7 linked regions of the Homo sapiens genome follow. Changing the gene in region 1 together with any one later gene gives a genetic interaction. Each region holds a gene or a part of one and is shown in the gene's direction. Other genes may lie near its edges.

Region 1 (3,500 bases):
CAAAAAGGCTGCTTATGGGTACTCACTGCTAAGTACAATCCACTGCCAAGTTTGGAAGCATTACCTGCTCTCACAACCCAGGGAAAGTAGCCCTTAGTAAAATTCAGGTTTTTTCAAACCAGCCTTAACCTTACAAACAGAATTTATCATCATGATTTTTCTTTCAAATGCAGTACAGCAAACTTTAGGATCAATGTTGACATCGTATTGCGTTTAGTCCTGTTAAAATACTCTCAGTGCCAAATACACACTTCTGCCTTTTTTCTCTTTAGAGTCTAGAATTCTGTGGGGTTCCAAAAATGTATGTGCTTACAACCTTTTATATGTAACCACCTAGGGATTAAAGGGCTAAATGTGAAGGAAAGTATCTTTACAATATTCATCTTGGGAAGCTCTCATTTTGGTGAGTTCTATTAGAGAAAATAAGACACAAGCTCATTAAAAATATATATATATTCTGAGCCTGGCATCTTGGTATAAAATTCAAAACGTTTTAAATCTATTTATTAGTAAGACTAACATAGACCTAAGTGTGAAGACTAAAATATTAAAGCTTGTAGGTGATATCATGGTTGAATATGACCTTAGAGTAGATTCCTTAGGACAGAAAAACACCAACAAGAGAAACAATTGACTAAATGGACTTCATTAAAATTAAAAATTTATGTTCAACAAAAGACACTGCTAAAATAAATACAGAATTTACAGACTAAAAGAAAATATTTGCAACATGTTTATCTGAAAGGGCTTATATCCAGACTATACAAAGAATTCCTGTAGCTCCATAATAAAAAAACAGACATCCCATCCGCATAATAAAAAGAGCAAAAGACTTGAACATATACTATACAAAAGAAGATACAGGAATGGTCAATAAATAAGCAAATGAAAGAGTGCTCGACATCACTAATTATCAGTGGAGTGAAGATTTAACCACAGGGAGATACGAATTCCAGTTCTAGGTATTTTTACCTCAAGTGAAATAAAAACATTTATCCATGAAAAAACTTGTACAAGAATGTTCATAGCAGTGCTCTATTCATAAGAGTGCAAAACTGGAAACATCCCAGAATAGATAACACATTATGGTATAGTCATAGAATATACTATATTTATCAGCAGTTAAGAAGGGAACTACTTATGTATTCAACAACATGGATGAATCTTAAAAACATGGTTAAGGGCCAGGTGCGGTTGGTGCATGCCTGTAATCCAAGCACTCTGGGAGGCCAAGGCGGGTGGATCACTTCAGGTCAGGAGTTCGAGACCAGCCTGGCCAACATGGCGAAACACCGTCTCTACAAAAAAATACAAAAATTAGCCGAGGGTGGCGCACACCTGTAATCTCAGCTATTCAGGAGGCTGAGACATGGGAATCGCTTGAACCTGAGGGGTAGAGGTTGCACTGAGCCGAGATTGCATCACTGTACTCCAGCCTGGTGACAGAGCGAGACGCTGTCTCAGAGGGAAAAAAAAAAGTTAAAAAGGCAGACAGAGGAGTCTATATTGTATGATTCTATTTATATAATCTAGACTAGGCAAAATTTATCCATGATGATAGTAATCAGATTGAAGGATCAGTGGTTGCTTGGTGGAAATTGACTGAGAAGGGAAATAGTCATGTAAGAATACTGGCAAATGTCCTCTTCCCCATTACAAACGTCTGAGAAAGTTACTAGAAAACAGAATCCAATTTGCCTTCTCACCCCCAACTTTGTAATCTTGAATCCAGATCCTGATTCCACCCAACCACTCTGCTGAATGGATAGCAGCTATATTAGAGAGACAATATAGTGGGCCTACTAGTTTTAAAAAGTCATCCAAAGAATGTCATCTACAATCAGTTAAATTAGATTTTTACCCATTACTGAAGTGTGATTGAATTAGGGAAAGAGGAGAGGTGGTCAAAGGCAGCCTTCTCCAGTGGATTCCTTGTCTTCTTGAGATGGTTTTGTGAGACCTTGCCTGGAAGACCTAGGTGGATAGTTTATTTTCTAAAAGTAGTCAAGAAAGCTTGTTCAGGGCATTGAACACTGCAGGGACAAGCATACTTCTTGGAGGCCAGCCATCTCCTGCTGGATCTAAGCGGGGTGGCTTCTGCCTCCACCTCCATCTCAGCTTATTTGAGAGAATCCTAGATCCTTGGTGCAGAAGCCCAGCCAGCCTGTGAAGAAAAGTTGGTCTGGTAGTATCCTGTGAATGACGTGCGGGTTGGGTTTTTCTAAATCTCGTTTACCTGACTCCTACCTTACATTCCAGTGGTGTGACTAAGGAACTGAGCAAACGTAACCCTAGGGGACTTTGAGACAGGCTTTGGTAGTCCATGTGCACTAGAGTGAGGGGAAAGAGGCCACTCCAGAGTTGGGTACTCTACTGTTGAAGGTGAGCCTTTTGTGTCCAATTTTTCCGTGCATGTGTAAGAACAGTTGTCATGGAGATTTACTACTGACTTGTGCATGAGGACAGCTTATATCTCACCTTTTCTTATTCACCCTGTTAAATGTCAAAATGTACTAAGACTTAGGTATTTTTTCTGTGTCACCAACTACTAAATCACCCACCCATGATAGCAGGTAGTTACTGAAACTCTTGTAGCCAAACAAGTGCATAACACTGGTACACATGATGTGAGAGTGCAGATGACTCCTTAGCTTAACTGTGTAAGCTTTTAATTTCTGAGTACTTTTAGGATTGAGAAGTGGAAGACATTCTTGCTCTAGGTATCTCATGCTTCTGCACACCCAGAAGGCTGGTTGCGCCCCCACCCCACCCCCCGCCCCCTTTTTTTTTTTTTTGATAGGGTCATGCTCTGTTGCCCAGGCTGAAAGGCTGGTTATCTTCACCACAGGTCTTATGTCTCAAGGACCACGGGTCCACGTCATAGTCAGGAACCAGGCATGTGTGGGCAGAAATCACTACCACTTTCCTTTGTTGCGGGTGGGGAAATTAAGAGCAGAGATTCTTGGATTCTTAAATTCCTTCTCTATGTTTATGTCATCTAGTCTGTTTTATGCTGTTTTATGTAATTCCCTGCTTCTGGATTTCTTGAATTTTTTTCCCCTTCTCACTTGTCATAATTGGCTCTTGCTTGTGAGTCTATTTTCATTCAGCTTGGTAGCAGAAGTCTTCTTCACTATTGTTTAGATTCAGTTTTCACATGGTTTTAGTAACCCTTCATTGGGTTTAGAATCAACTTTTAACCCTTCCACCAAAAGCTCTTATTTTTTTAAAGGCTTCCCAGAAACATAGTTTCTCTCAATCTCATCAAGAAATGCTTTTAAATGCAGAAGTTAGAAAATGGTGAATAATTATGGCTGTTCCTGGAAGTCATTGTGTCCTTAGTAATTACATGTTGTAGTCTTTGGTTCTGCTTCTTTGACAGCTCCACCACACTGTAATTTAATGGAATTCACTTAGATTTAATGGAATTCAGTCCTGGTAGAAAACTGCTATTGGGTCACAGAGTTGGCAGCAAGGCTGTGAAATTGATGTGGGAATGG
Region 2 (3,500 bases), on another chromosome or scaffold:
GCGGAGCCCCATCCTCTCACCAGGCTGAGGCCAAGCCTGCTGGGTGTGTTTATTCTCACTTGATCTGCAACAGTCCTGTAAAGTGGGAGTCACTGGCCCAATTTACGGGAAGTGAAGGTCCTATAGCAGCACCTGACTTGCAGGAGTGAGTGGAGCCTGCACACTGATCTTGGGGATACTGTAGGGGTGCAGAGTGGGAGCTTTAGGGAGGGGGCCTCCGTTCTTCAGGGAGGACTCCTGGATGGTCAGGCCCATGCCGGGGCCCACTGGAATAGTCCGGGTCAAGGAGGAGCCTTGGGTGTCTTCCTCACTGTGGTTTGCTGGTCTATGCCTATTTCCACCTTGACCTGCCACCCTCAGCTATGGTGCACCTGGCGTGGAGTTCACAGGCCTGCACCGGGATGCAGCCACTGTCACACAGATGCACTTCTTGACCGGCCAGGTGAGCCTCTGCTTCCCACTAGCCAGCTCCCTGTGGCCCCCATATCTACTCATCCCCCTAGGCCAGCCTAGTTTTCATCTCTGCTCACACACCAGGGCCGCCTCCTGTCCCTGCTTGATGACAGCAGTCTGCATCTCTGGGAGATTGTCCACCATAATGGCTGTGCCCACCTGGAAGAAGCACTCAGTTTCCAGCTGCCCAGCCGGCCCGGCTTTGATGGTGCCAGGTACTGGAGAACTTGGCTGGGGCCAGCCACCGGGCAGGGAGGATCTGGGGGAGGCTGTGGGAACCTGCTGTGCAAAGGCAGCATGGAGATGGGCAGCGGTTCAGGGCGGGATGCCTTGAGCTGGGCCTGGGTCCCAGGCTGCAGCTGTTGGACCCTGCTTTACTGAGGTATACTCTGAACTTTTCAGGTTAAATGGGAGGTTTGGGTTGAGTCCGACGTGAGCAGGTAATTAACATTGTGAGCAGCAGGAGGTACATGCATTATATGCCAAACTTCTAGGACCTGAGGCCTGGCACTACACTTACTGCAATGATGGGGGTGTCTAGGGGTTTGGGGCAGGGCCTAAGCCAGTTAGTAACAGGAAGGGTCCCCTGGCCTCTTCAGTTGTGGGTGGGAGACAGGCCTTTCTGTGCATAGGCAGGGTTGAGGGCAAGGAGGGTCCCATGGGCTGTGCTTGGTAAGGCGCTGGCAGCATGCCCCAGCTGAGTGAGAGTGTGGGGCATCTCTCTCCCCAGCCCTGCCTGAAATAGCTGGAAAAGGGGAGTACCAACCCAGGGATGGATTCCTGATGCCTCCCAGCTTCTGCAGATGGGGGTATCTGGGGCCCTCCTGCGAAGTCAGGAGATGTCTGAGCGCTGGCAGCGGGATTCCTAGGAGGGGCTCAGCGGGGAGCTCCTGGTCCTGGCTTGGGCAGTGCCCTGGTTCCTGCTGTCCTCTCCTGGTGGGTGGGAGGAGCTGGGAGCCCAGTCTGCAAGACCTAGGGACCCTATTTTTATCCATCTCCCTGCTGACATCCTGATGAATAATTGAGCGGGCTGATGATGATGCATGTCTTCCTGGGGTGGCTCTGTAAGTAGGCCCTGGTGAGTGCTGTGGGGCCAGTGATGAGTTATCAGCAGTGGCCCAGCCCCTCACACCCCACCTGAGCAGGTGGATGGGCTTGTACCCTCACTCCCTTCCCCTTGTTCCCTGCAGTGCTCCGCTCAGCCTTACCCGAGTCACAGTGGTCCTGCTGGTGGCTGCCAGCGACATAGCAGCCCTGGGCACTGAGGGCAGCAGTGTCTTCTTCCTGGATGTTACCACCCTGACCCTGCTCGAGGGGCAGACGCTTGCCCCAGGCGAGGTTCTGCGCAGGTAAGAGGCCGGTGGGCTTCCCAGCACCCACTGTGTGCCCGGGAAGTTCTGCTGGCTCACCTGCCTTCCTCCACAGCGTGCCAGACGACTACCGCTGTGGGAAGGCACTGGGCCCCGTGGAGTCACTCCAGGGACACCTGCGGGACCCCACAAAGATTCTCATTGGCTACAGCCGGGGCCTGCTGGTCATCTGGAACCAGGCCTCGCAGTGTGTGGACCACATCTTCCTGGGGAACCAGGTATGTAGGTGAGGCCTGTGTCCCCTCAGCCTGGGCCCCTTGTGCATGCCCACCATGGCTCATGCCTGCCTGCCTGCCTGCCCCTGCCTGCCCGCAGCAGCTGGAGAGCCTATGCTGGGGGCGTGATAGCAGCACTGTGGTCAGCTCACACAGCGATGGCAGCTATGCTGTCTGGTCTGTGGATGCCGGCAGCTTCCCAACGCTGCAGCCCACGGTAGCCACCACACCTTACGGTGAGTGCTGGGGACACCTTAGCCAGAGGGTGGTGATGGGAGGGGGCACCACTGAGCCAAGCCAAACTGGCTGAGGAGGGACTTCCCCGAGGGGGTGGTCTGGGGGCAGTGTGTCTCCCGCCGACTTCCCGGGGAGGCAGGAGGCAGCTGTAAGGTAGAGAGCAGTGGAGGGCAGAGCAGGAATGGCAGAATTGCTAAGAACCACCAGTGAGTCTGGTCTGACGCTGTCCCACCCCTCAGGCCCCTTTCCCTGCAAGGCCATTAACAAGATTCTGTGGCGGAACTGTGAATCTGGGTAGGTCGAGGGAGTGGGTGTCCGATGTGAGTTGGGTCTGGCTAGGGGGCTGGAAGGGTGGGCTCTCCCTAGGTTGTGCAGTATGTGCTCTGGACCCAAGTGGTTCATGGCTCGCACACCTCCCTCTGCACATAGGGGCCACTTTATCATCTTCAGCGGTGGCATGCCCCGTGCCAGCTATGGTGACCGCCACTGTGTAAGTGTGCTTCGAGCCGAGACATTGGTGACGCTGGACTTCACTTCCCGCATCATCGACTTCTTCACAGTGCACAGCACACGGCCCGAGGATGGTGCGTGCCCTGCCGTACCCTACCCTTTCCCAGCCCCACCTGGTGCCCTCTGCCACCTATGGCTGTGCTCACCCCATACTCCCTCCGTCCCACAGAATTTGATGACCCCCAGGCCCTGGCTGTGCTGCTGGAAGAGGAGCTGGTGGTGCTGGACCTGCAGACTCCTGGCTGGCCAGCTGTGCCTGCCCCATACCTGGCCCCGCTGCACTCCTCTGCAATCACTTGCTCGGCCCACGTGGCCAGTGTCCCCGCCAAGCTGTGGGCCCGCATTGTGAGCGCTGGCGAGCAGCAGAGCCCCCAGCCTGTCTCCAGTGCCTTGGTGTGTGCGGCGATCAGGGGGGTCTTACAGGGTGGAGTCTTGAGGAGGGGGAGAGTTTCAGTTCTAAGCCCGGAGGTCAGAATGTGCCATACTCGGGGTGAGAGGGAGAAGATGTTCGTCCTAACCTTGTGCATACATCTCTGCCACCCCCTCCCAGAGCTGGCCCATCACTGGGGGCCGAAACCTGGCCCAGGAGCCGTCACAGCGAGGGCTGCTGCTGACGGGGTAGGTGTGCGTGCTTATGTGGGTGAGTGGGCCCCTTGCTGTTGGGGGAGAGCCCATCCTGGGCCTGGTGGGTGCAGAGGTGCCAGGAGACTCAGGC
Region 3 (3,500 bases), on another chromosome or scaffold:
GTATCACAAATGACAAAATTAATATTCCATTCCCTCAGCCTTGTTTTGGTTGTGGCAAATGTAAAATGGCCATGAACTACGTATCTTACAGTATTTGATATCCAGTGTTAGTCTTTATAAACAGAATAGTAAGATTTGATTGTTTCTTTTTCACTCCTACACTGGCTGGGAGTTTAAGTAAAATTGTTTCTGGCATTATAGTTCTGCATGAAATTCTTTCTTTTTTTCATCAATTTGCTAAAATAAAATAATTAAAAATGTTTCAGAAGTAGCCAAAAATAGTGCTTAGGCTAATAGTAGGCAATATATACCAATGTATAGACTTAGATACTGGTTTCTTCCTCCTTTTCAACTTTTCAGATTATCCCCTTTTCCTCCTCCTTTTTCCCCATCAGTAACATTTAGGCTTGTCACTGGCCCCTGTGAGCACCACTAACACAAACATAATTCAAAAAGGTAAAGAGGTTGTAAGTTCTATCTTTTGACTTCTGGTTTGTGCGGGATTGGCTTTTTTCTTTCTTTTTTTTTTTTCTTTTTGTGTAAAACAAGGTCTTGCTTTGTCTCCCAGGCTGGAGTCCAGTGGTGCAATTATGGCTGGTGCGATCATGGCTCACTGCAGCTGCAACCTCCCAGGCCCAAGCAGTCCTCTCACCTCAGCCTCCCCAGCTCCAGCTACTGCTAATTTTAAAATTTTTGTAGAGTCAGTGGGTGGAGGAGTCTCCTTATGTTGCCCAGGCTGGTCTCAAACTCCTGGGATAAAGTGATTCTCCTGCCTCAGCCTCCCACAGCTTTGGAATTACAGGCATGAGCCACCATACCAGGTTGAGATTGGCTTTCAAGGGCTCCAGAAAGCTATAGGGAGAATGACTTTAACTAAATATAAGAAGAAAATTTATAATAACTAGAACTAACTGGGCTTCCTTGAAACATAGTGGGTTCTCCAGCATTGAAGATATTCAGACAAAAGCTGGATAGATGCCACTTGTTGAGATTGTTCTAGAGAGGACTCGGCCAGTGGATAGGGAGTAAAAATAGACTTCTAAATTCCTTTCAATTTTAAGATTCTTTTACTTGATCTGTGATCTCCGGTTTCTCCATTAGTCCTCTGCAGCATCCCTTTGTGGTAATGTAATATTATAGAAGTAAATTGTTGTGGGGCAACTGCAAGTGATTTCAGGAAGTAACTTCAGGTAAAGGTTGTTACAGAACACATTTCTTTGTCTTGGAATTCATGCATCTCCAAACGATAAGGCCATAGTCTTTTTTTTTTTTTTTTTTTTTTTTTTTTGAGACAGGGTCTCGCTCTGTCACCAGGCTGGAGTGCAGTGGCGTGATCTTGGCTCAATGCAACCTCCTCCTCCCAGGCTCAAGCCATCCTCCCACCCCAGCCTCCTGAGTAGCTGGGACCACAGGCACACACCACCACACCCGGCTGTTTTTTTTGTATTTTTAGTAGCGATGGGGGAAACCCATCGCCTTGTTGCACAGGCTGGTCATGAATTCCTGAGCTCAAGCCATTAGTTATTTTTCCTGATCCTCTCCCTCCACCCTCCTATAGGCCCCAGTGTGTGTTGTCCCCACTATGTGTCTATGTGTTCTCATCATTTAGCTCCCACTTAGAAGTGAGAACATGTGGTATTTGGTTTTCTGTTCCTACAGTAGTTTGCTAAGGATATAGTCTTATGAAGCTTATTGGCAGTTTCCCAACCCCTGGCTTTTATTAAGATGATGATATCTGGCCAGGCATGGTGGCTTACGCCCATAATCCCAGTGCTTTGGGAGGCCGAGGAGGGCAGATTGCTTTGAGCTAAGGAGTTCAAGACCAGCCTGGGCAACATGATGAAACCCCATCTCTACAAAAAATACCAAAAAGAAAAAAAAAAAAAAAAAGATGGTGCTATCTGCTAGCATATCCAATGACATTTTCTCAAGTGTTGCTCTACTGCTAATCAGCTTGGGCAAGTGAACCAAACCTCAAAGGTCATTTGGGGAAGCCATCTGAAGGGCTGACATGGCAGCGACTTCACTCTCCACATTTAGCCACTCATTTGATCCAAAATATTCGGTAATTTTCCAACTTTTTTTTCCCTTTCTTTTTTTTTTATATGGAGTTTCACTCTTGTCGTCCAGGCTGGAGTGCAGTGGCACAATCTTGGCTCACTGCACCTCTGCCTCCCGGGTTCAAGTGATTCTTCTGCCTCAACCTCCCAAGTAGCTGGGATTACAGGCGCCTGCCACCACATCCAGCTAATTTTTTGTATTTTTAGTAGAGATGGAGTTTCGCCGTGTTGGGCAGGCTGGTCTCCAACTCCTGACCTCAGGTGATCTGCCCGCCTTGATCTCCCAAAGTGCTGGGATTACAGGCGTGAGCCACTGCACCTGGCCTTTTTTTTCCTTTCTTAATTACCAAGCACAGTCACCATCTTTGCTTCAAGGTTCTGTTATTCTATACCTCTGAGATACTAGGAACTAGCCTGGCATGGTGGCACGTACCTGTAATCCTAGCTACACAGGAGGCTGAGGCAGGAGGATCACTTGAACCCAGGAAGCCAAGGCTGCAGTGAGCCATGATAGTGCCACTGTACTCCAGCCTGAGTGACAGAGATCCTGTCCCAAAAAAAAATACAGTAGTTCTCTGGTCCTTTCATGAGGTGGGTTTTGTTCCTCTGACATTAAATTACATTCCATAGGACAAAACAGCTCACTATTTGGCCCAGAGAAAGGGTAACCCTACTTTTCAAGTCATCCCACATTATTTTGACATCCTTAAGAGAATAGCATTATCTCTCATCCTTTGGCCTCTGGTTAGAGATTTAAAACCTCTGCTTTGCCACCATGTGACTATACTTGAATTTCCTTTAGCTCAAACTTAGTATCATCTGTCTCATCATACATACACACACACAGTATTTTAGAAATCGAATTAAGCTTGGCTTATTTACTTTATAGGTAAATCACCTTCTGAGCCTCTGATTCCCAAGAGGGTTGGTCTTATTCACATATCCCAAGTCATCTCAGAAGTTGATGGTAACAGGATGACCTTGAGCCAAGAAGGAGCACAAGATTCCTTCCCTCTTCAGCAGAAGATCTTGGTTTGCTCTTTGATGCTCTTGATCAGGCAGTTGAAAATCAAAGAGGTCACTCTGGGGAAGGTAAGTTGGGATGGAGCAGATGGAACGGAGGTAGAGATCAGAATCTGCTTTGCAGAGCAGGTATTTTCCAAAAGGCCTATGATACTTCAGCTGATAATAAATTTAAAATGGATTTTAACAGTAAGAATTAATACTGGTACTATATAAAAGGCACCTATTTCCCTTGGATTGTGGTTGAGAGTTTATCATTAATCCTTTCCCTATCCTCCCCTTCATTTCTGCATCTCTCTAGGAAATATATAAAGCCCCTTTCCTACATTACTGTATAGGTTTTCGGGAATATCTACAGAAGCCTGTTCAAAGATTTTATTGAAAAGAGGAAGAAATAGGGTATTCAGATAAGTTTTT
Region 4 (3,259 bases), on another chromosome or scaffold:
ACTGGTGAGTGTGTCATGTGTTTACTTAAAAGGGACATAAAATCTGAGCACACTTTCCTCTCTGAGTGGTGGTCAGCCCCATGTCCAGTGGTGTTAGTGACGAGCTTTGGCACCATGCAGCTGACAAAGAGTGTCTTTGAGGTCATCAGTTAAACATTGTCTCTGATTCTTCTTTCTGATGACTGATAACAGTACTTAATGTTAGTTTAATCTCATTTAACTCAGGAGGTGAATAAATTTCTTTTGGGTCCAAAATCAGCCAAATTCAGAGAAGTGTTTTTTAATCATGTCTTTTTTTTGTTTGTTTGAGACAGTTTTGCTCTTATTGCCCAGTCTGGAGTTCAGTGGCTCCATCTTGGCTCACTGCAACCTCTGCCTCCCAGGTTCAAACAATTCTCCTGCCTCAGCCTCCCGAGTAGCTGGGATTACAGGTGCACGCCCAGCTAATTTTTTGTGTTTTTAGTAGAGATGGGGTTTCACCATGTTGGGCAGGCTGGTCTCAAACTCCTGACCTCAAGTGATTCACCCACCGCACCCGGCCGAATTTTTCTTTTTTTCTTTTCTTTTTTTTTTTTTTTTTTGAGACAGGGTCTTGCTCTGTCACCCAGGCTGGAGTGCAGTGGTGCGATCTTGGCCCACTGCAACCTCCACCTTCCAGGTTCAAGTGATTCTCCTGCCTCAGGCTCCCAAGTAGCTGGGACTACAGGCATGTGCCACCACACTCGGCTAATTTTGTATTTTTAGTAAAGACAGGGTTTCACCATGTTGGCCAGGCTGGTGTTGAACTCCTGACCTCAGGTGATCTGCCTGCCTCAGCCTCCTAAAGTGCTGGGATTACAGGCGTGAGCCACCGCACCTGGCCAAACTTTTCAAATCCAACTATGATGGTATCCTTCATCTTCATGTCTGACGATAAGCTGTTGGCATAGACAGTTAAGCCCACAGGGAACAAGAAGTGCATCGATTGCCAGGAAGAGAGTGAAATGTTTTTGTTCCTCCTGTGCTAGGTCGGGACTTCTCTCATGATGACACTTTGGATGTTCCAACGCAAGTTGAGCTGCTCATCAAACAAGCGACATCCCATGAAAACCTCTGCCAGTGCTATATTGGCTGGTGAGTGGGGCTCTCAAAGTGACTTTGTTAAAATAAGCAATCAGGTCCCAAGCCTAGGCCCCAAAGCCAGAGTAGCAAAAAGAGATTTGGTGAGGTATCTGTAAAGGGCAGTTAGAGCTCAGATCTCTTTAAAAATTCATATTTACTGCATGTGCCCATTGTTATAAAAAAAGAAACTGAGAAATATGGATGCATACTTGGAAGGCAAACACTAAAATTAAAATTACATTAAGATAAGTGGTTCAGGAGAATAGGCAAGGCTTGTTTGTTTGTGAGGGGTTCCTTTTGGGTTTTGCTGTCAGTCCAGTGCAGAGATACAGGAAGGGCGAAGGAAAGAAAAAGCTAGAGCAGTGACAGAGAGAAGGAGATAAAAAGACAGATTTATGATCTGGGAGTCTAACCTCAAGGGCCACTCTGGGGTGTGCTTTGATTAATTGCCCAAGGCATGCTTGAAGGCAGAAACTTGAGAGAGCGGGCGCTGGGGAAGTGTCCTTGCGGGACCTCGGTGGGCATTAGCCTTGACTGGAAATGATGAGTGTGTCCCATGCAATTAGCTGTGGGAGAGCTCAGGGAATACCCTAGGGTTGTCAGACCTTGGCCTTTTCATTTTCAAGTTATCTGTGTAAACCTTTGAAGAAGCTCAAATTATTAAAATATTCCTTTTCTTTCTGCCTTCTTAGGTGCCCTTTCTGGTAACTGGAGGCCCAGATGTGCCCATCACGTTTTTTCTGAGGCTTTTGTACTTTAGTAAATGCTTCCACTAAACTGAAACCATGGTGAGAAAGTTTGACTTTGTTAAATATTTTGAAATGTAAATGAAAAGAACTACTGTATATTAAAAGTTGGTTTGAACCAACTTTCTAGCTGCTGTTGAAGAATATATTGTCAGAAACACAAGGCTTGATTTGGTTCCCAGGACAGTGAAACATAGTAATACCACGTAAATCAAGCCATTCATTTTGGGGAACAGAAGATCCATAACTTTAGAAATACGGGTTTTGACTTAACTCACAAGAGAACTCATCATAAGTACTTGCTGATGGAAGAATGACCTAGTTGCTCCTCTCAACATGGGTACAGCAAACTCAGCACAGCCAAGAAGCCTCAGGTCGTGGAGAACATGGATTAGGATCCTAGACTGTAAAGACACAGAAGATGCTGACCTCACCCCTGCCACCTATCCCAAGACCTCACTGGTCTGTGGACAGCAGCAGAAATGTTTGCAAGATAGGCCAAAATGAGTACAAAAGGTCTGTCTTCCATCAGACCCAGTGATGCTGCGACTCACACGCTTCAATTCAAGACCTGACCGCTAGTAGGGAGGTTTATTCAGATCGCTGGCAGCCTCGGCTGAGCAGATGCACAGAGGGGATCACTGTGCAGTGGGACCACCCTCACTGGCCTTCTGCAGCAGGGTTCTGGGATGTTTTCAGTGGTCAAAATACTCTGTTTAGAGCAAGGGCTCAGAAAACAGAAATACTGTCATGGAGGTGCTGAACACAGGGAAGGTCTGGTACATATTGGAAATTATGAGCAGAACAAATACTCAACTAAATGCACAAAGTATAAAGTGTAGCCATGTCTAGACACCATGTTGTATCAGAATAATTTTTGTGCCAATAAATGACATCAGAATTTTAAACATATGTATATGAGTGGCGTTTTAGTCATAATTTTGATCAGTTCAAAAAGGAAGCATTTACTCTCTTCAGCACTCAGCCTTCAGTAAACACTCTGTAGTAGGGATGACAGAGGACGTAAGGGTGTACGTGACATGGTCCCTTTCCTCAGACTGTTCCCAGGCCAGACAGGTGGAGACAGCATGCCACTGAAGTGAACAGAACTTACCCCGGCCAAGTGCTGAGAAGAGGCATGTATGGGCCACAGGTAGGAGCGTGTATTCCACCGGGTGAGCCTGGAAAGCCCCATAGAAAGGGGGACATTTGGCATGGGTCTTAAAGAGGGGTGGGAGTCTGTCAGATGAACCAAGGGGGGGGCATTCTCAGCAGAAAAGGAAGTGTGAGGCACTGCTGTAAAAGCAAGGTATCCATAGCAGTGGCAAGTATCAGTTGGACCATTTGAAATCACAGGTACGTGGACCATTTTTAATATACAAAACTGGCATTTTCTTATGGCTGCACCTCAT
Region 5 (3,500 bases), on another chromosome or scaffold:
GCTTGAACCCGGGAGGCGGAGGTTGCAGTGAGCTGAGATCGCACCACTGCACTCCAGCCTGGCGACAGAGTGAGACTCCGTCTCAAAAAAAAAAAAATTAATTTAATTTTAAGTTCCGGGATACACATGCAGGATATGCAGTTTTGTTGCATAGGTAAATGTGTGCCATGGTGGTTTGCTGCACCTCTCAACCCATCACCTAGATATTAAAACCCGGCATTAGCTATTTTTTCTGCTGCTCCCCCTCCGCCCACAGGCCCCTGTGTGCTTTGTTCCCCTCCTTGTGTCCATATGTTCTCATTGTTCAGCTCCCACTTACAAGTGAGAACATGCGGGTTTGGTTTTCTGTTCCTCTGTTAGTATGCTGAGGGTCACAGCTTCTAGCTCCATCCATATCTCTGCAAAGGACATGATCTCATTCTTTTTTATGGTTGCATAATATTCCATGGTGGATATATACAACTTTTTCTTTATCCTTTATTGATGGACATTTGGGTTGATTTCATGTCTTTGCTATTGTGAATAGTTATTTTGGATTTTTATTTGGCAGAACTAAATGATTGTCTTTTCACTCTTGCTGGGTATTTACAGATTTTTACTAGGGTTCTACAGTTTGTAAATATTTTTATTTCAATACTCATTCTTTTTTCCCCCACTAATTTAAAACTGAGATTTTTTAAAATTACACTTTGTATTTTGGTTTCAGTTTCCTAAAAAGTGTATAGTACACAAACACATCAAAGTATTACTCTTAACCATGTCTGACATATAATAGATAATATATAAGTATTTATTCAATTCCATATGAATGATTAAATGATGAGAAAACTTTCTACCACATTCAATTAAATTTAAGATGCCATTAATTAGAAGATGCACCAATAGGCACCACTAAGAAAGAAAAATGCTACCAATTAAGGTTGTGACTTACCATTGATTACAAGATACATCTTGATTTCAGAGATGTTAAAGTGTGAAAAGAATTGAGAAATGCATAACATATTCTACGGGAGCCCAACCGGAGTATGAAAAATAGTCAATGCAGGATAGGCTAGTAAGCCTAGAAGTAGATAGGCTTCATCCTGTGAGATATTGTTTAACACTTATCTTATAAATATGCTTTTATTTTCAATAATTTTAAGTCATTCCTAAGCCTTCAAGACTGCCTCTTGACAGGTATATAGAACTTTACAACAGGCAGCTGAATCTTTGATGAGAATATCTTTGTCATTGCCATCTACAGCCTTCTTGGTGGTGAGGTAAACATAGTTTGACTACGTGGTTAGGTGAAAAAGGGTAGTGACCAATCCTAAAATAATCTCATATTATTCAACTCCAGAGACTAAGGAGGAGGTCAGCCCCAGCTAGTGTTGGTGGGAGTGAGCATGGCTGCCGTTTTCATTGATCTGTGTCACCAGCATGTTTTGTGGTTCTGGTGGGGCATGGTTCCTGCTGCTGCTGCTCCAGAGACAGCACAGCCATTGGGATTGCACACCTGTGAAAGGCAGACACCTGGGGTCTCGATTTTGTCATACTTTCTGAACTTTATTATGTGTAAAACAGTCTGTATGTACTCTAAACTGAGTAGTATGATTAAACTCAACCCTTTTTACTTGAGGTCCAGAGGAAAACAAAGCTAAAAAGATTATGAACATCTAATGTGAATAAATTAAGAATAAAGTGACCTGTCTTTTCTCTCTAGTGATACATTTTGCCATTTTATGGTGTTCGTTGAACCTCTTTCTGCTGTGAATGACCCTTTTTTATTTTTATGGTCCATAAACACTGGGGGTCATTCACTCCATTCAGATGGCCAGCGTTGATTGGCATTCACCTTTGCCCTTGGTAGTGGTTCAGCCCACTACCTCAGTGTTTGTTACTGTGGAGATTTAAATTCCCATTTGTTTTTGTGTTTAAAGTTTTTAAGTTTCTAATCCTGTGTGCCATCTGTCCTCATTTCGTTTGAGTCAAACGTTTCTAATGTTTTAATTTTAGTTACTTAAAATTGAAATTTCAAATTTTCTGGTTTTCCTTTTCTATTTGACCCTCAGCTTATACTTACTCTGGTCCAGGTTTATGTTTTTAATGTGTCTTATTTCTTACTTTTCTTGGCTTTTTCTACTTTGATTCCAGAGATAGCAGGTTCTCTCTTATACATTCATCATTCTCTTCCTTTCTTCCCTTTCTCCCTTCTACTCTTTCCCCATTCAAACCTGGTGTGGGATCTATACAACAATCTGTATTATTAATTTTGACAAGAACTCACAATTCACTTGTCTTATAAAAACTAGGTTTTCATTTCAGTTTATCCTTTTCAAGCTTGGTGAGGTGATTTGGGATAGACAATGAAAATATCTGCATTAATGGGGTTTTATATATATCGGAAGCTGTCACCTTTAGGTCTGGAGAATCTTGGGTTTAAAAAAATAATTCTTCTGAGAGAAATGTCCAGGGAGTTACTGAGTATTAAGGCTTTACTAGCTAAGTAGAATAGATTGCTTTTTGGCCTTGGGGTGAAATGATAACCCAGTCAGTCACTGGTAGTCTCATACTGATTGGCAGTTAAATATATCCCTTATTTATTTATTTTTTTAAGAGGGGAAGGAAACAATTATAATGTAACGTGGGATCCAGTAAGAGAAAATAATGGTTCTTGCTGGTGAAAAGATTGAGTACTAAATTTGTTTTTATTTATAGTATATGAAATAAACACATATAATTTATTGTGTGTATTTGTGCATAGGATTGTATTCGTGTGAATATGTGTGTATATGTATGTGGGAGACGTACACACATATATATATGAAGAGTCAATGTATTTGTTTTTATTTGGTTCCTTAAACAAATAGATCTATGATAATGTTGATTCTTGGTTCATGAATTCCTGTCTATAATCTTTCTCTATAACCGAAACATTTTAGAGCTATAGTGTTACTGTTTTATTGTTATTGTTTTATGTATAGCTTTTGCATCTGCCAAAATAATAAACTTCCATGCTTAAGTAAAATTGTAAATTTGAAATATTTTTCTGATTAATTTTAGACCCCAGTTATTAAAGCTTTTGGCATCTTGAAGCGAGCGGCCGCTGAAGTAAACCAGGATTATGGTCTTGATCCAAAGATTGCTAATGCAATAATGAAGGCAGCAGATGAGGTAGGAGGTGATAAGTGTGTTTGCTTAATAACCTCAGACCCATGCCATACTCTGGATGACGATATGCTCTGGCAGAAGGAAAGGGGAACTGTGAATTCTTGAATTAATGAATTTCAGGGGAGGGTGGTAGCATTATTTTTAGTGGTGATATTAATATGGTGCTTAAAACGTTACATTGTGACAAAATTTCTGGATGATTTTATACCTTTTGTTTTTAAGCCTTTTGACTTTCCTTAATTTATATAGTTTTAAGAAAATTTTTTGAAAAGATATCATTTGAACTTTACTTGATTTTTTATTTTATATATAAATCTTTTTAAAACCAGTTGATTATTTGATAATGCATA
Region 6 (3,500 bases), on another chromosome or scaffold:
TGGGAGTACTTGATTTAATGGGTTTTTGTCCAGTTCTAGAATCATAGCTCTGAGAAATCGTAAAGACCTAGATCTCATGGCTAGACTAGTCCAGAGAATTATCTATCAAGAAGCAAAAGGGAAACAGTTGAGGGTCCTCAATCTAGATTTATTTCGATTCCTCCAATAAGGGTTTCACCTCTTGAAAATATCAGGAGACTTTTTCATTGGGGTGGAGTGAAATGTTTTGATTCTGAACTATTGAAACATGGTGAGGTTGTGGAAGATAGAGAAGAGCCTTAAATTTCTTTTAACATATAGTTTCTGTAATTAATCAATTTAGGAATTCTGTTATGGCCTAGTTTTCGGAGTACTTGATTTAATGAGTTTTTATCTGGTACTAGAAGCATAGCTGTGAAAGACCTTAAATGTATGAAACTCATATCCTTTTCAGTATTTACAGCTTGTTATTAATAAATTGTCTCTTTAGAAATAGACTAATGGTGAAGTGGGTTTATTCACATGTGACTTATTTGATATGTTAATGTAGTGGAATTTGGCATTATTCCAAAGATACAGAAAGAGATTAGACTTCAGACTTTCATGGCCTCGCCTATGGTATAATCTCCAGAATGTGAGTATGAGGAATCCAGTAATGAATTCATAGTGCCCTGGTAGGCATAGTCACTCTTGTGACATACTTGGTGTATATACATACCAGAGTTAATTACTGGTCCAGAAGAACTTAATCTCAAGAGCCAATTTCTGGTTATCCCAACATGGCACAGTATAAAATCTTATGGAAAAAAAATCTTTGTCATTGAGATCAAATTATAGTTTTCATACAGTAGATTTATATTGTTGATGTTTTACTCATGTTTATGTCAGACTTAATTTATATTTGTAGAATCTACTGTTTCTGATGATTTAGAGAATGGGAAACTGAAAGAAATTTTAAAGAATTAAGTAAACCTTGTTTGTTCTAATGGGTTTCTAGTGAATCTCCTTCAAGTTGGGGCATAGAGATTGAGAGGAGAGGTTTTTTAGGAGAGTCTCAAACAGGAAGACAACTCAAATAAGTGTTTATTCCTCTTGGTTGTCAGTGCTTCAGTAAAGCTTATTTATTTATTTTTTTCTAGCAGGCAGATAGAAGTTCCTGTCACTTTCTCCTTTTTTACGGGGTAGGATGTGATATTCCTTCTAGTGGAAATACCAGTCAAATGTCCATGGATCATGAAGAATTACTACGTACTCCTGGAGCCTCTCTCCGGAAGGGAAAAGGGAACTCCTCTATGGTCAGCTTCTTCTGTACTTTTTCTGTATCATTTTATGTGCTCTGTTTGTTTTCTGAATGAAATTTGGTAAATTTCATCTAGGTAATATAGTGTAATAGTGAAAAACTGCTTAGAATCTAGTTCTATTACTGCTCTTTGTGGAACTTTGGGCAAGTTCTTAACATCCTTGTTCCTCAGTTCCTCAACTTTAAAATGGGGACAGTAATAGTTCCTGCCCCAGAGTTGTTAAAGAGGGTTAAATAAAAGGATGTGTAAATAGCACTTGACACTTACAAGCTATATCTGATAATTATAATTATTATAAACCTCCACTCCATAAAAAACCCATTCATACCACAGAAGTATAGAATTCGTACCGGCTAACAAAGGTACAGATTTACAGGGATAAAAACAAAGTATTTTGCTTCATGTTAAAGATAAGTGTTTCTGTGATTTGTGTTTGTGTGTATAATTTCTTTTAAATATAAATCATATTTCAAGTGAAAATATCACATCATTACAGAAGAGTTTATTTTCCAAACCAAAACTTTTTTCATTCCTAATTTTTAATGCAACCTTGTTAAGGAAGAAACACCTAAGCAGTATGATATTTACTAATGTCTGTTTTACTTGTAGAATTTGCATTTATTTTATCAATTATTTTCTCCATTTCGTGTTTGGAGAATAAGTAATTCAGAATCAAATGTATCTTCTACAGCAATATTTAGTTCTTGTTTATGCCCTTGTTTCAATGAGTGCTGCAGTGTACTTATTTTATTACTTCCCTATAGCAAGTAGATAGAATTTCCTGTTACTTCCTCTTTTTTTGTCATTTCTAATTGACTGGGAGGTACATTATATTGTTACTGCAGTAGATTTACGTTATGGTGTTTACCTGTCCATGTTAGAATCAGTTTACATTTCTGGAATCTGGAATAGGATAATATCTATTTGATTTGAAATTGAACAGATGGTAGCATTATGTTGGTCCAGATAATCTCATTTCTCATTTGGACAAGATATTTTGGGGTTTGAAAAATTCCTATAATGATTAAAGGAAAAAGCTCTTGTGAGTTATTGTATGCGGAGACACACACACACACACACACACACACACACACACACACACAGTTTATTGCATTGTTAGATTTTATACATAAAATTACCCAAGTTGCAAATATATGTCTTCCACCCTTGACTCTCAGGATAGTGCAGCAGGATGCAGCGGAACCCCCCCGATTTGCCGACAAGCCCAGACCAAACTAGAAGTGGCCCTGTACATGTTTCTGTGGAACCCTGACACTGAAGCTGTTCTGGTTGCCATGTCCTGTTTCCGCCACCTCTGTGAGGAAGCAGATATCCGGTGTGGGGTGGATGAAGTGTCAGTGCATAACCTCTTGCCCAACTATAACACATTCATGGAGTTTGCCTCTGTCAGCAATATGATGTCAACAGGTAAATGTGAATAGTGGTTTTTTTTACTCAGTCTGCCTCAAAGCACATGGCATCTGATTTTGAGAATGTATTTAAGGTCACTACTTTGTAAGTTTACAGGGGAAATTCAAGTAGCTTACTTGAAATCCTTTTCTGAACAAAGTAAGATGAAAATAAAAAGCATTTGAAATAAATTGTTAGTCTTCCACTGAGTTGTTAATATGCTATACATTTTAAAAATAACTGGCAGTAGATGTTACTATCAGTTATGATTATGTAATTTACTCTGCCTAAGTTGTAGATAGTGAAGTTTTACAAACATTGGCGTATGTTTTGAGTAAATTGTAGGTGGGAATAGCTATTTTATTCTGTGGACATTGTAGAGTCCAAGATAAGTACCTTTCCTGTGAGGTTAGTGAAAGGAAGTTTTTGGCTTTATCATTTGAAGCATTTGCTCTGCTCTTCCTACTCCTTTTGGGTGGAGCTTATCAGGTTCTCCATTGGCAGGCAGGGCTCTAAGTGCAGTAACTTGATTTGCTGTTGTATTTGCTTAGGAAGAGCAGCACTTCAGAAAAGAGTGATGGCACTGCTGAGGCGCATTGAGCATCCCACTGCAGGAAACACTGAGGTATGCCCTTAGCAACAGAAACACCCCTCCCAGGCGCCCACCCTCAATTTGGAAGCCTCTTGTTACATATGTGTGATCAGGAATAGCTTTTGAAGTAAATCCAAGATACGTGCATATTACAAGTATAATATCTGAGTATTTAATATACATCAAGTTTGAAACTTGGCTGTAGCTGATTGATGTTT
Region 7 (3,500 bases), on another chromosome or scaffold:
CTACTCCAGTAAGGAAGATTATGATCAAAAAAGAAATTATTATAGAATGACATGCCTTGGCTTAGCATTTGTTTTCAAAAAGGCTTTCTAGAACAGTTGCCTTTAAATTGAGACATGGAGTATGCATAGAAATTAATGAAGCCAGAAGTTGGTGGAAATGTGATCCAGGCAATCCAGTTCTTTGAGCTGCCTATCACATGAAATACTTTTGTATTCCTTCACCAGAGAGCTAAATATGTCCTTCAGTAGCATATCTGTCCCCTTACTAAAGTGCACAACTCTAGGTATGTACTAACCAGAGCAGAGTGGAGCAGGTCTCATCACCTGTCCTCCTCATTATGTACTTTATATGGCTTTTAATATGAAGAAGAGCCTGGGCAACATGGCAAGACCCCTTCTCTAGAAAAAATAAGAAAATCAGCAGGGTGTGATTGCACTTGCTGTGGTCCCAGCAACTTGAGAGGCTGAGGCAGGAGGATCACTTGAGCCCAAGAGGTTGAGGGTGTATATATATATATATGAGGGGGGAAAAGTAGCATGCATTTTTTAGGCCTCATTACACTTTATTATTTTTGAGTATTATTTCTCCTGTGGATAATTATATTAAACTGTAGCTGTAAAAATAAGCACAGTGCTAGGTTCATGTCATGGCAGAGTGGATTGATGGTGTATTTCCTAATTTTGCAAAGAATGTGTGATTTCTGAGCTGGACACAGTGACTTATACTTGTAGTCCCAGCTACTCAGGAGGCTGAGGTTGGAGGACCACTTTGGCCCAGGAATTCAAGTCCAGCCTGGGCAACGTAGTGAGACCCAGTCTCTTTAAAAAAAAAAAAAAAAAAAAGTGATTTCTGTTAACAATGATTCTCTTTCTCTTCCCCTTCCCCCACCCCCCATTTTTGAGGTGAAAAATGGTTGTATGGCTGTTGGTTTTACCGACCAAATGAAACATTCCACCTGGCTACACGAAAATTTCTAGAAAAAGAAGTTTTTAAGAGTGACTATTACAACAAAGTTCCAGTTAGTAAAATTCTAGGCAAGTGTGTGGTCATGTTTGTCAAGGTAAGAAACTCATTAAATCCCAAAGTCTCACTCATTCCCTAGGAATAAAATTTTAAAACACAGAAAATAATCGATGTTTACAAAATTAGGAACTCTGTTTTAAGCTATTTTTTAAGCCGTGTCTATATAGCTATATGAAAAGATTTGGGAAGAAATTAACCTGAACTTCGTTGTGAAAGACCACTTGCTGCTTACACTATTTGGCTATAATGCAGTTAGGTTAAGTTTTTAATATTGCCAGGCTAATTTTTAAGTATGATGTTTTTTTAAGGATAATCATTACAAATTTTCAGTTTGTTTTTTAGGTAATAATGTGTGCTTTTGTGTGTCTGTCTGATACACACACACAAGCCCTCTTCAAAGCTTTAAGGAACATTATAGCTATATGAAATGTTCATATGTTTTCAAAGAGCAATTGTAAGCTAAATGGAATTATTTGTTTTTATAATTTAAAGGGTGTGTATATAATAAGTCCATTCCGTAGCCAAAGAAATACTTCTAAATCTCTGGTCATTTATTATTTTTTGTTAACTGCCAGAAAGTCTGTAATCAGTTCAGCTTTTGTTTGGTTGGTTGGTTATTTGCTTTTTTTTTTTTTTTTTTTGATTGATTTTCAGAAAATTCACCTAACTAGTTTTATTCTTATGCCCTCCCCACCCCCCAGGAATACTTTAAGTTATGCCCAGAAAACTTCCGAGATGAGGATGTTTTTGTCTGTGAATCACGGTATTCTGCCAAAACCAAATCTTTTAAGAAAATTAAACTGTGGACCATGCCCATCAGCTCAGTCAGGTTTGTCCCTCGGGATGTGCCTCTGCCTGTGGTTCGCGTGGCCTCTGTATTTGCAAATGCAGATAAAGGTGATGATGAGAAGAATACAGACAACTCAGAGGACAGTCGAGCTGAAGACAATTTTAACTTGGAAAAGGTATGCAGATAATAGCCACACAGAAAAAATTTTACATCTCAAAACACCTATTCCAGAAAATAAATGAATAAAGTATTCAAACTTAGAAAAAGAGCAACAACACAAAACCTTAGCCAAACAGGAAGAAGGAAACTATAACAGAAAGAAATTTACACTTTCAAAACTGTACATTATAATTTAAAAGTAAATCAGGCCAAGTGCATTGGTTCACGCCTGTAATCCCAGCATTTTGGGAGGCCAAGGCGGGCAGATCACGAGATCAGGAGTTCGAGACCAGCCTGACCAACATGGTGAAACCTCATCTCTACTAAAAATACAAAAATTAGCTGGGTGTGGTGGCGCGTGCCTGTAATTCCAGCTACCCAGGAGGCTGAGGCAGGAGAATGGCGTGAACCTGGGAGGCGGAGGCTGCAGTGAGCTGAGACCACGCCACTCTACTCCAGCCTGGGCAACAGAGTGAGTCTCTGTCTCAAAAAAACAAAAAATTTTTTTAAAGTAAATCTAAGAGCTAATTATTTGACAAGTCCAATTAGATAAACTGCCAACTATCTAATAATGGGAAAAGAAAGGGGTTAAACTTCGACACAAAATGTGGAAGAAGGCCAGGCGCGGTGGCTCACACCTGTAATCCCAGCACTTTGGGAGGCCAAGATGGGTGGATTACCTGAGGTCAGGAGTTCGAGACCAGCCTGGCCAACGTGGTGAAACCCTGTCTCTACTAAAAATACAAAAAATTAGCTGGGTGAGGTGGTGGGTGCCTGTAATCCCAACGGGAGGCTGAGGCAGGAGAATCGCTTGAACCCAGGAGGCAGAGGTTGCAGTGAGCCGAGATCGTGCTATTGCAGTCCAGCCTGGGCAACAAGAGCGAAACTCTGTCTCAAAAAATAAATAAATAAATAAATGTGGAAGAAATGTAAAGACTGTATATTTCTGCTAATAAATTTGAAAACCTAAATAAAATGGCTAATTGTCTAGGATATTACAAATTACCAAAATGGAATCAAGAAGAGATATAATACAGAATGTACAACAACATGAAGAAATTTTTTAAAGTATCATAGAACTGACCCCAAAGAGTACTGAGGTCAGACAGTTCCATAGGTGACTTTTTCTTTAAGGGACCTATGATTATTATACTGTTGAAGCTGTTTCAGAGCAGGGAGAACAAGAAATTTCCAGTTTGTTTTGCAAAGCCAAGATAATCTTGATTTCACAACCTGAAAAATAAAAACAAAAAACTGCAACTCAGTCTTATTCATGTATATTGATGCAAAAATTACTTGGGGGAAAAAGTAAGTGAAATCAAATTACTTCTTTGAGAACAACATGACCAAGAAGTGGGAATTCATTCTAAGAAAGCAAGAATTGTTCAAAGTTAGGGAGATCTTTAAATTTCATTCATTATTCCATTAGATCAAAGGAAAGATTATTTGGTAGAGAACCCATCTTGATTTTTTTTAAGACTTTCAATAGGTATTTCTTCTAGTGTAATTTTTTTTTAAATTCATATT

What was found.
Region 2: changes in TOP1 (region 1) and LLGL1 are lethal when combined (synthetic lethality), as found in Homo sapiens cells (one large-scale study listed by BioGRID).
Region 3: changes in TOP1 (region 1) and CDC6 are lethal when combined (synthetic lethality), as found in Homo sapiens cells (one large-scale study listed by BioGRID).
Region 4: changes in TOP1 (region 1) and MTOR together harm fitness more than expected from each alone (negative genetic interaction), as found in Homo sapiens cells (one large-scale study listed by BioGRID).
Region 5: changes in TOP1 (region 1) and FH are lethal when combined (synthetic lethality), as found in Homo sapiens cells (one large-scale study listed by BioGRID).
Region 6: changes in TOP1 (region 1) and NF1 are lethal when combined (synthetic lethality), as found in Homo sapiens cells (one large-scale study listed by BioGRID).
Region 7: changes in TOP1 (region 1) and PBRM1 together harm fitness more than expected from each alone (negative genetic interaction), as found in Homo sapiens cells (one large-scale study listed by BioGRID).

What each region holds. Positions count from the first base shown.
Region 1 is NC_000020.11:41,108,822-41,112,321, forward strand, and holds part of TOP1 (DNA topoisomerase 1), read left to right. Parts: intron 1-3,500. UniProt on the Homo sapiens protein: Releases the supercoiling and torsional tension of DNA introduced during the DNA replication and transcription by transiently cleaving and rejoining one strand of the DNA duplex.
Region 2 is NC_000017.11:18,232,135-18,235,634, forward strand, and holds part of LLGL1 (lethal(2) giant larvae protein homolog 1), read left to right. Parts: intron 1-360; coding exon 361-442; intron 443-537; coding exon 538-668; intron 669-1,643; coding exon 1,644-1,802; intron 1,803-1,878; coding exon 1,879-2,041; intron 2,042-2,138; coding exon 2,139-2,274; intron 2,275-2,514; coding exon 2,515-2,569; intron 2,570-2,704; coding exon 2,705-2,859; intron 2,860-2,954; coding exon 2,955-3,178; intron 3,179-3,335; coding exon 3,336-3,403; intron 3,404-3,500. UniProt on the Homo sapiens protein: Cortical cytoskeleton protein found in a complex involved in maintaining cell polarity and epithelial integrity. Involved in the regulation of mitotic spindle orientation, proliferation, differentiation and tissue organization of neuroepithelial cells.
Region 3 is NC_000017.11:40,297,879-40,301,378, forward strand, and holds part of CDC6 (cell division control protein 6 homolog), read left to right. Parts: intron 1-2,949; coding exon 2,950-3,152; intron 3,153-3,500. UniProt on the Homo sapiens protein: Involved in the initiation of DNA replication. Also participates in checkpoint controls that ensure DNA replication is completed before mitosis is initiated.
Region 4 is NC_000001.11:11,106,035-11,109,293, reverse strand, and holds the end of MTOR (serine/threonine-protein kinase mTOR), read left to right. Parts: coding exon 1-4; intron 5-1,007; coding exon 1,008-1,113; intron 1,114-1,793; coding exon 1,794-1,809; 3' UTR 1,810-2,759; downstream 2,760-3,259. UniProt on the Homo sapiens protein: Serine/threonine protein kinase which is a central regulator of cellular metabolism, growth and survival in response to hormones, growth factors, nutrients, energy and stress signals.
Region 5 is NC_000001.11:241,513,256-241,516,755, reverse strand, and holds part of FH (fumarate hydratase, mitochondrial), read left to right. Parts: intron 1-3,042; coding exon 3,043-3,153; intron 3,154-3,500. UniProt on the Homo sapiens protein: Catalyzes the reversible stereospecific interconversion of fumarate to L-malate. Experiments in other species have demonstrated that specific isoforms of this protein act in defined pathways and favor one direction over the other.
Region 6 is NC_000017.11:31,223,977-31,227,476, forward strand, and holds part of NF1 (neurofibromin), read left to right. Parts: intron 1-1,118; coding exon 1,119-1,274; intron 1,275-2,458; coding exon 2,459-2,708; intron 2,709-3,241; coding exon 3,242-3,315; intron 3,316-3,500. UniProt on the Homo sapiens protein: Stimulates the GTPase activity of Ras. NF1 shows greater affinity for Ras GAP, but lower specific activity. May be a regulator of Ras activity.
Region 7 is NC_000003.12:52,584,914-52,588,413, reverse strand, and holds part of PBRM1 (protein polybromo-1), read left to right. Parts: intron 1-903; coding exon 904-1,061; intron 1,062-1,725; coding exon 1,726-1,989; coding exon of another isoform or gene 1,990-2,001; exon of another isoform or gene 2,002-3,233; intron 3,234-3,500. UniProt on the Homo sapiens protein: Involved in transcriptional activation and repression of select genes by chromatin remodeling (alteration of DNA-nucleosome topology). Required for the stability of the SWI/SNF chromatin remodeling complex SWI/SNF-B (PBAF).